Linked DNA regions of Homo sapiens: region 1 is linked to region 2. The links come from fine-mapping of genetic effects on gene expression. A gene starts in region 2. The other region holds a variant in brackets. All regions are shown on one strand. Distances are between the middles of the regions.

Region 1 (5,378 bases), 250 kb after region 2:
TAATAGTATTCAGTCTACAGATATTTATGTAATTTTTTAAACCTGTCCTATTGCTTTTCTTTTTTTTTGACACAGGGTCTAACTGTCATCACTCTGAGTACAGTGGCACGATCTCAGCTCACTGATCTCCCCAGCTCAAGTGATCCTCCCACTTTGGGCACCCTCCCCACTCCAACAGCTGGGACTACAGGCACGTGCCACCAGGCCTAACTACCGTTTTTTAATTTTAATTTTTCTGTTTTGTTTTGTTTTCTGTAGAGATGAGGTCTCACTCAATTGCCCAGGCTGGTCTCAAACTCCTAGGCTCAAGTGATCCTCCTGTCTTGGCCTCCCAAAATGCTGGGATTACAGGTGTGAGCTACCATGACCGGCCCCATTGATTTTAATCACAGTAAAGAATAAAAGTATCTGCTATTTTCTAGGCAAGAAGTTACTGCTCCTTAATATTCTACATCTCGTGAGATTAGTATAGATGATTCTTCATCATAAGAATGTGAAAGCAGATACCTATTAGGTAAGACACAACAGCTTTATAAACTTTGATTTTCCTAAAGATCTTGATGAGTTGTCTTTAACTTTTTATTATGAAAACCTTCATATATTGGCCAGGTGCAGTGGCTCATGCCTGTAATCCCAGCACTTTGGAAGGCTGAGGCAGGCAGATCACGAAGTCAGAAGAATGAGACCATAGTGGCCAACATGGTGAAACCCCGTCTCTACTAAAAATACAAAAAATTAGCTGGGCATCGTGGCGGGTGCCTGTAATCCCAGCTACTCGGGAGGCTGAGCCAGGAGAATTGCTTGAACCTGTGAGGTGGAGGTTGTAGAGAGCCAAAATTGTGTCACTGCACTCCAGCCTGGGTGACAGAGTGAGACAACACCTCAAAAAACAAAAAAAAAAACCAAAAAACTTCCATATATCTATCGGCCAGGCATGGCAGCTTATGCCTATAATCCCAGCACTTTGGGAGGCTAAGGCAGGCAGATCACTTGAGATCAGGAGTTCAAGACCAGCCTGGCCAATATGGCAAAACCCCATCTCTTACTAAAAATACAAACAGCCGGGCATGGTGGTGTATGCCTGTCTTGAGTAGTCCCAGCTACACAAGAGGCTAAGGCAAGAGAATCGCTTGAACCCGGGAGATGGAGGTTGCAGTGAGCTGAGATCGCGCCACTGCACTTCAGCCTGGGTGAAAGAGTGAATCTCCATCTAAAAAAACAAAAAAACAAAACAAAAAAAAAACAACCCATAGATGACAAATGCAGATAGACTAATACAATAAACTCCCATGTACCTAACAGCACAGCTTCAACAACCATCAGTATTTTGTTCTACTTTCTTCACCTATCCTCCTCTGCAGCATCTGACACTGTAACATCCCATCTTTGTGGATAATTTTCCCTCACAGTCTGTGACATTACTTTTCTCGTTCTTCTCCCCTTCTGACTACTCCTCCTGTGGTTCATCATCTTCTTCCTACTCACTGCTTATGCAATTTGAGAAAAACAAAGAATCAAATGGAATTTTATAATCACTGCACTCTGTGGTTAAGACATGCCACTCACTACTTTAAAAGCAGAATCATCTCCTTTCCTAATTTTATCTGCTGTTACCGATTTCCAGGATAACCAATAAGCAGTCTAAGTTAATTCACATAGTCCAAGGCTTTCAACACCTTTTAGATGAAGGGGGCCTGCCCCTCCATACCTGTGGGTATTTCTCGTCAGGTGGAGACGAGAGACTGAGAAAAGAAATAAGACACAGACACAAAGTACAGAGAAAGAACAGTGGGCCCAGGAGACCGGCGCTCAACGTGTGAGGACCCACACCAGCGCTGGTCTCTGATTTCCCTTAGTATTTATTGATCACTATTTTTACTATCTTGGCGAGGGGAGTGTGGCAGGGCAACAGGGTGATGGTGGGGAGAAGGTCAGCAGGGAAAAATGTGAGCAAAGGAATCTGTATCATGAATACGTTCAAGGAAAGGTACTATGTCTGGATGTGCACAGAGGCTAGATTTATGTTTCACTTTACACAAACATCTCACTGTAGCAAAGAGTAACAGAGCAGTATTGCTGCCAGCATATCTCACCTCCAGCCACGGGGCGGTTTTCTCCTATCTCAGAATAGAACGAATGGTTGGCTTTACACCCCGACATTCCATTCCCAGGGACGAGCAGGAGATAGAAACCTTCCTCTTATCTCAACTGCAAAGAGGCCTCCCTCTTTCACTACTCCTCCTCAGCACAGACCCTTCACAGGTGTTGGGCTGGAGGATGTAAGGTTTTTCCTTTCCCACGAGGCCATATCTCAGGCTGTCTCAGTGGGGGGAAACCTTGGACAATACCCAGGCTTTCTTGGGCAGAGGTCCCTGCGGCTTTCTGCAGTGCATTGTGTCCGTGGTTAATCGAGAATGGAGAATGGCGATGACTTTTACCAGGCATACTGCCTGCAAACATATTGTTAACAAGGCACATTCTGCACAGACCTAAATCCATTAAACCTTGAATCAATACAGCACATGTTTCTGTGAGCACAGGGTTGGGGCTAAAGTTACAGATTAACAGCATCTCAAAGCAGAACAATTTTTCTTAGTACAGATCAAAATGGAGTTTCTTACGTCTTCCTTTTCTACATAGACACAGTAACAAACTGATCTTTCTTTCTTTTCCCCACATTTAGGTCCAAACTTGAACGCAGATAGGCACATGAAAGTGCTAAACCTGGGCTAACAGCAAACAGCTGGTACAAAGCTCTGCCCCTTCTAATGAAGGCCCAGATGATACCATAGCTAGTGGTGACCTTCACATATGTGTAAAGCTCCTATCTCAGTTTTTCTGGAAAAGAAACTTAACAGCCCAATGATGGCTCTGGAGTTTAGAACACCCTGCCTCTGAAAAGGTGCCAGTATATTTATTTTCTACAAGCTGAAGAAGTATCAACAATTTGGTTATCCCTAGCCCACTCCAGATAGCTCTAATCCGATAAGCTAAGAGTCTTCAATCTTTTGCAAATATTTCCCTTCTTGAGTTCTGAATTCTTTCTGACACTCATTTATTCT[TA/A]TATCATGAACCTGAAGTTTACACTAAAATGAATATTTAGGAAATCTATCTCTCCGCATTCTGTGGTAAGCAATCAGTGAATGCTTACCTTGTTTCATCCTTGGATCTGGAGCCATCATCATTCTGAGAAGCACCTTTAACATCAAAGTTTAAACAGAAAATGAGTTTCAAGAGAGTAGTTTTCATGTTTTTTCTTTTCTAAACATGCCATGTAAGCAAAGCCTTTTATTAAATCTTTGTAATAAAGAACATACTATAACTTAAATTCCAACATGACTTTAAAAGGAAAAATGTGATTTTCATGACTGCAAAAAAAGTCTGCCAAAATTTTGTGCAAATGCTTAATAATTAATGGATACGGGATGTTAATTACTAAAGGTATATTACTCATGCACTACTATTCCTGCCTTTTTTTTGAAATATGTCTAACTCTAATTTAAACCTAGTGTTTTAACCATCTTTGTATCCCAAATACCTCATAAAAAAGTGCTGATCGCCAGCAGAATAAAATCGATTCCAGAAACAGAAAAACCCATAACGTCTCTCTTATTGCAGGGGCCTGGAAAACAGCTTAAAAATTAGGAAAGCCACAAATGGGAATCCAAGTTGCCAAAAATTAATGCCACAATATTCTTATTTTCTTCTTGCTTTATTGATGGAAAATATCCTTAGGATTCAGTCCAGATCTTTTTACTGTAACAGTGTTGGAGGAGCCAGGTGCAACAGCTTACACCTGTAATCCCAGCATTTTGGGAGGCCAAGGTGGGCGAATCACCTCAGGTCAGGAGTTCAAGACCAGCCTGGCCTACATGGTAAAACCTGTCTCTACTAAAAATACAAAAATTAGCCAAGAGTGGTGGCAGGCACCTGCAATCCCAGCTACTTGGGAGGCTGAGGCAGGAGAATCGCTAGAACCCGGGAGGCAGAAATTTCAGTGAGCCAAGATCGCGCCATTGCACTCCAGTCTGGGCAACAAGAGCAAAACTCCCGTCTCAAAAAAAAGAAAAGTGTTGGAGGGAGGGTGCTAAAGGTAGGTACATTTAAAGAAGCAAAACAAATGGTAAACAGGGAAAGAGAAAGAAAAATGATCACATGTAGAAACAAGAACTCAAGTTCGACCACCTAGGTCCATTTAGTAAAGGAACAATAGGCCCTGGATAGAATCATAGTTTAAACAGGGAAATTATTACCATATTACAAAAAAGCATAATTGGTGGATTAATTTAAAAAATACTGAGTCACCACTATACTATACCATACTTAGCAAAGTTGGTAAATGTCTCATCCAGTCTAGAAATATATTATCTTTAAATAGTATGTGAATAAAATGTTGTCTATACAATGGAATTATTACTATTTGGTAATAAAAGAGAACAAACTAATGAAACACGCTATATCATGGATGAACCTCAAAAACATTATGCTAAGTGAAAGAAGCCAGACACAAAAAACAGATATTTTATGATTCCATTTATACAAATGTCCAGAAAAAGACGAATTTTTAGAGATAAAAAATAGAGGCCGGGCGTGGTGGCTCACACCTGTAATCCCAGCACTTTGGGAGGCCAAGGTGGGCAGATTGCCTGAGGTCAGGAACTTGAGACCAGCCTGGCCAACATGGCGAAACTTCATCTCTACTAAAAATACAAAAATTAGCTGAGTGTGGTGGCGGGCGCCTGTAGTCCCAACCACTCAGGAGTCTGAGGCAAGAGAATCACTTGAACCTGGGAGGCAGAGGTTGCAGTGAGCAGAGATCACACCACTGCACTCCACCCTGGGCGACAGAGTGAAACTCCGTCTCAAAAAAAAAAAAATACAGATTAGTGGTGGTTGCCTGTGGCTGACAGTGAGAAGGGAAGCTCCTGTAAACAGGCAAGAGGGATTTTACTGAGGGGATAAAAATGTTTTAAACCTAAATTACAGTGATAGTTGAATCCCTCACTTAAGTTACTAAAATTCATTAAGCTGTACACTTGAAATGGGTAAATTTTATGTTGTATAAAATACAACTCAATAAAGATGTTAATGTGGTAAAAAAAAAATGGTACAATGAAATACATTTTGGCTATAAAGGGTAAATTTCAGTTTAAGAATGTTTTAATATGGAATATAGTCCCCTAAAATGGCTTATGAATGGGACATAAATGAAATCAGAAAACCACAACAAAATATCCAGCATAAGTTACTAAAATGTGTCTATTAGTATTTCACTTTTCTCAAAATTAAGAAAATCATTAGGAATAATCCATTTAAGTCTACCATTATTTGCTACTTCTAAAACCTTCTCACTACAGTGACAAAGAACAGTATTTTAA
Region 2 (5,378 bases):
CGCCCGGCCATTTTTTTTCTTTTTTCTTTTTTTTTTTTTTTGAGGCAAGGTCTTGCTTTGTCGTACAGGCCTGAGAGCAGCGGCGTGATCTTGGCTCGCTGCAGCTTCAACCTCCCAGGCTCAAGTGATTCTCCCACCTCAGCCTTCCCAGTAGCTGAGACTACAGGCATGCGCCACCATGCCTGGGTAATTCTTATGTTTTCTGTAGAGACAGGTTTCACCATGTTGCCCAGGCTGGTCTCAAACTCCTGGGCTCAAGCAATCCTCCCGCCATGGCCTCTCAAAGTGCTGAGATTACAGGCGTGAGCCACTGCGCCTGGCCCACTCCCCCTTTTCTTTCTCTCATTAAGGTTTGTGATTTTTTTTTTTTTTTTTTGAGACGGAGTCTTGCTCTGTCGCCCAGGCTGGAGTTATGGTTTGTGATTTTACTTATGTTATTCTTTAACTATTTTATCTCTTCAACTGCTTTCCAAGTTACATAAGGGCAAAGGCAGATGGTGCCATTTTGTCACTGCAATATTCCCCAACACCCAATAGAGGGCTTGTGGGAATATAGAGATGTTTGAAAAATGTACACCTGTTCACATCATTTCTGGTTTAAAATTCTCCAATGGCATATGGATTGCACTTTGAATAAAGCCCAAATTCTCAAGCATGGCCAATAGGTCCCTACCTGATTGCCCCCCGTCTCTCCATCCACAGCTTCTTCTATTCTCTCCACTTGAGCCATACTTGTTTTCTTTCTGATCCTCAAACATACCTTGCTCTTTCCCCACTCAGTCCGTTCCTTCTGCTTGGAGGCTCTGATTAATTTCTCATCCTTTAGGTCTCAGCTCAAATATCACCTCTTTCTAGAGTCTTCCCTGATCACCTTGTCTAGTGTTACCACCCTTATTATTACACCAGCAGTTATTCTCAGTCATACACTGTTTCGTTTTCTTTCTTCTCTCTCTTTCTTTTTTTGAGACAGAGTCTGGCTCTGTCGCCCAGGCTGGAGTGCAATGGCGCTATCTTGGCTCGCTGTAGCCTCCGCCTCCCAGGTTCAAGTGATTCTCTTGCCTCAGCCTCCTGAGTAGCTGGGACTGCAGGCACAGGCCACCATGCCTGGCTAATTTTTGTAATTTTAATAGAGACGAGGTTTCACCATGTTGGGCAGGCTGGTTTCAAACTCCTGACCTCAAGTGATCCGGCTGCTTCGGCCTTCCAAAGTGCTGGGATTACAGGCGTGAGCCACTGCGTCCAGCCTGTTTCCTTTTCTTCACAAATATGAAATTTCCTTGCACATTTAATATTATTATTGCTAATATTTAAGCACTTACTATACATTAATTAATGAAGTGTGCTGCTTAATGCTTATCAATGGGCTCTCCAAACCCCAAACCCCTGATTTGTAGTGTTTGCTGATTCCTGTGGTGTAAACACTCGCATTGGGAGGGATTTTCAATCTATCAACCTGAGGAAACTGAACACCACCATTTGGGAAGAGAAAGAGATAGTATTTGCTGTACTGATACAGCGGTGGTAAATAATCTCAAAAGCACATATAAAAAAAAGTGTAGTAAAATAATTAGAAAGTGACGTGTTGAATATGTATTCCGTTGTTTTCAATATAAGTTATTTAACTGTAGGTTTATATGTCTTAATTTTCAAAAATGCCTGTGTTTAAAAGCGACTGGCAAAATTTCTAAGCCTTCCGGCCAGGCACGATGACACAAGCCTGTAATCCCAGCACTTTGGGAGGCCGAGGCAGGCAGGTGGATCGCCTGAAGTCTGGAGTTCGAGACCAGCCTGACCAACATAGAGAAACCCTGTCTCTACTAAAATTACAAAAAATTAGCCGGGCGTGATGGCGCATGCATGTAATCCCAGCTACTCGGGAGGCTGAGGCAGGAGAATCGCTTGAACCTGGGAGTCGGAGGTTGCAGTGAGCTGAGATCGCGCCATTGCACTCCAACCCGGGCAATAAGAGCGAAACTCCGTTTCCAAAACAAAAAAAAAATTTCTAAGCCTTCCTCAACTGTCCCTAGTTAGCCTATAATCAGCACATTTTTCAGCACACAAGGGTTAAGCGACTTGTTGAACTAGCTAATAAATCAGTCTACTACTCCAAAACGCATCTGTAGAACCTAACATAGTGCCTGGAAAATAGTTGGCGTTTAACAAACAACTGCCAGAATAAATTTTTTAAAAAATACACATTTAACACTCTTTAAAAACATAAAAGGTACCAGCCTGGGCAACATGGCGAAACCCCGTCTCTACTAAAAGTACAAAAACTTAGCCGGGTGTGGTGGCGCGCACCTGTGGTCCCAGCTACTCTGGAGCCCGGGAGGTCCAGGCTGCAGTGAGCTGAGATTGCGCCACTGCACTCCAGCCTGGGCGACGGCACTGAGACCCTGTCTCAAAAACAAAAAACATAAACATTTTGGGCAGGGTGCGGTGGCTCACGCCTGTAATCCCAGCATTTTGGGAAGCCGAGGCGGGCGGATCACCTGAGGTCAGGAGTTCGAGACCAACCTGGCCAACATGGTGAAACCCCATCTCTACTAAAAATACAAAAAAAAAAAAAAAAAAAAAATAGCCGCGCGTGGTGGTGGGCGCCTGTCATCCCAGCTACCCAGGAGGCGGAAGTTGCAGTGAGCCAAGATCGCGCCACTGCACTCCAGCCGGACGACAGAGCGAGACTCCGTCTCAAAAAAAATAAAAATAAAAATAAAAATAAACATTTTGGCATTGAAAACATACACGCAAGAGTGAATTTAACATCTGTTTAAAAGTCTCTCACAATCCCAGGAAGGCGACTACTTCCGCTTCTACTTTCAGCAGCGTTTCAGCCCCGCTATAGCGGCGCGGCTTCACAAAACACCTGCGATCGTAGAAGGTTTCGCCCCACCTTCTGCATACGCAGCTTGAGGCGCCCGCTTTCCGTCGCTCCGGCCCGCCTCGCCGCAAGGCTTTCTGGGAGCCGTAGTCCCCACGTCTGGCCTCTCCGGCGCCAGCGGCAGCGCGCGCCCACCCGCGGAACTACAGAGCGTGGCGCACAGCGCGCGAGGCTCCTCCGCCTCGCCTTCCCTCCCCGCCCGCGCGCCCGCCCCAGTTATCATGGCGGCTCCCTTGGTCCTGGTGCTGGTGGTGGCTGTGACAGTGCGGGCGGCCTTGTTCCGCTCCAGTCTGGCCGAGTTCATTTCCGAGCGGGTGGAGGTGGTGTCCCCACTGAGCTCTTGGAAGAGAGGTGAGGCCACTGGCTCGAGCAGACTGTCAGGCCCCACCTGCCCTCCCGCGGCCTCTGTGAATGGGAGGCGGGGGCAGTGACCGCCAGCGCGCGGTTCCTAGAGAACTAACTGACTGTCTCGTGGGGTTCTTGGAGAGGGCGGGGCCTGAGGGCGGGGCTGGTGAGGGGAGGGGGCGTGGGGACCGGGGCGTGGGGACAGTGTCGTGAGGTTTGGGCCCTGGGGGCCGGACCACCTAGTGGTGGGGATCTGAGGGGGCGTGTCCCATTCAGTGTCCTGAGCCGAGGAGTGTGGTCTGTGGGAAGGGTTGGAATAAGAGGAGGAGGTGCTTGTGGAGCGCGGCTTGCAGAGGAGTTTGGGATTTGGGGCGGGATCGCCAGGGGTGCTCCCTGGGATAAAAGGTTATGTGTGAGGGGGTCCGGGATGAGGGGACCAATTTTGCTTAAGCGAGGAGAGTGTGCGTGTGCTTTAGACGTCTCTTCTCAGTCTGGGACTTGCAGGGCAATTTTTGTTACTGTTCCTTACTAAGTTCTTCACCGAACATTGTTTTATACTAACGCCTACAGCGAGAAAGCGAAGTTGGCCTGAAGTAGCTGCACAGGCTAGTGAGGGAGACAAATCGTTATAATAATTCATGAAAAGTATACTTTATGTGTCCACCCAGTTCCTTCCTTAGTATTCTGACCCTGAATAAACTATCCCCTACCTTTCCAGTTTTCCAGAATGTGGGATTTGAGCTGACTCTTGAAGGATGTAGGGTTTTGAAAGGGAGATTAGAGAAAAGGAGAGTTCCAGGTAGCAGAAAGTAAATAGGATGAAGAAACGTTCAAGGATGTGAAATGTCCAAAGCAGGGGAGTAATGGGGTGGAAGCTAGGTTTAGGCCAGAGTTTGATGATTAAAAAAAAACAAACAACTTTTTTTTTTTTTTTTTTACTGAAGTACAGTATACATACAATGCATATTAAGTAAGTGTAGAGTTCAATGAATTTTTAAAAACTGTATTCACTCATGTAGCCAGCACCTAGTTCAAGAAACAGTATCAGCACCCCAGAAGTCCCCTTTGTGTCCTTTAAATGCTAAAGTTTTTTTGTTTTTGTTTTTGTTTTTTGTTTAGAGACAGGGTCTTTCTATGTTGCCCAGGCTGGTCTGGAACTCCTGGACTCAAGCAGTCTCACTTGGCCTCCCAAAGTGCTGGGATTTCAGGCGTGAGCCATGGCACCTGGCCAAGGCTAACGTTTTGATGTTATCCCATAGAATGTTGGTATGGGGAACGGCATAATGAATGGGTGTTTTATGAATAGAGTTAAGGTTTCTAAAAATGGTAACATATACCTTTTCTCATTTAGTCCTCACATTTATTTCTATGTGATAGATGGTGTTATTTTCCCCCTTTTACAGATGAGGGAACTGAAATTTAGAGAAGTTAATTTGCCCAGGTTTCCTAGTTGGGGAATGGTAATAAAGATAGTAATAATTCATGTCTGAGATTGTAAGAGCTTGGATTTGTTACCTCTGCGTATTATTTTTCTGTTGAAATGAATCGAAGCCATTTGGTTCCTGTTTTCTTCTGGATAACTGAAAACCTGAGGCAGTATTAGGCCCTTCTTCCTCTACACCCTACTAAGAGCATTTCTTATCTCATAATTACCTGTTTATATCCGGTTTTTCCACATTTTCTCTCTCTCTCTTTTTTTTTTTTTTTTTTTTTGAGATGGAGTTTCACTCTCATTGCCCTAGCTGGAGTGCAATGGTGCGATCTCGGCTCACCATAACCTCCGCCCCCTGGGTTCAAGCAATTCTTCTGCCTCAGCCTCCTGGGCAGCTGGGATTACAGGCATGCACCACCATGCCTGGCTAATTTTGTATTTTTAGTAGAGACAGGGGTTCTCCATGTTGGTCAGGCTGGTCTTGAACTCCCGACCTCAGGTGATCTGCCTTCCTCGGCCTCCCAAAGTGCTGGGATTACAGGTGTGAGCCGCCATGCCTGGCCTCTTTTTTTTTTTTTTTTTCTTCAAGAGACAGGGTCTCACTCTGACACTCAGGCTGGAGTGCAGTGATAATGGGTCACTGCAGCCTTGACCTCTCGGGCTCAGGACATCCTCCCTCCTCAGCCTCCCAAGTAGTTGGTAGCTGGGACTACAGGCATG

What was found. PIP is the estimated chance that this variant, and not a neighbour inherited with it, causes the effect.
Region 1: its variant is the best candidate, but not a certain one, in a credible set for the expression of PIGU in whole blood (TOPMed, PIP 0.55).

The regions. Positions count from the first base shown.
Region 1 is chr20:34,422,299-34,427,676 of GRCh38, reverse strand. ITCH (itchy E3 ubiquitin protein ligase) reads right to left here. Exons shown (of 25, transcript NM_031483.7): 7 at 3,152-3,197. Among named protein-coding and RNA genes, the nearest start is that of MIR644A, 41 kb to the left of the region's middle. The variant TA/A (reference allele first, on the strand shown) is at 3,063.
Region 2 is chr20:34,674,810-34,680,187 of GRCh38, reverse strand. It overlaps PIGU (phosphatidylinositol glycan anchor biosynthesis class U), which reads left to right and starts at 3,096. Exons shown (of 12, transcript NM_080476.5): 1 at 3,096-3,232. The coding sequence starts at 3,103. RefSeq lists enhancers at 1,856-2,741, 2,742-3,628 and silencers at 3,027-3,136, 3,377-3,476.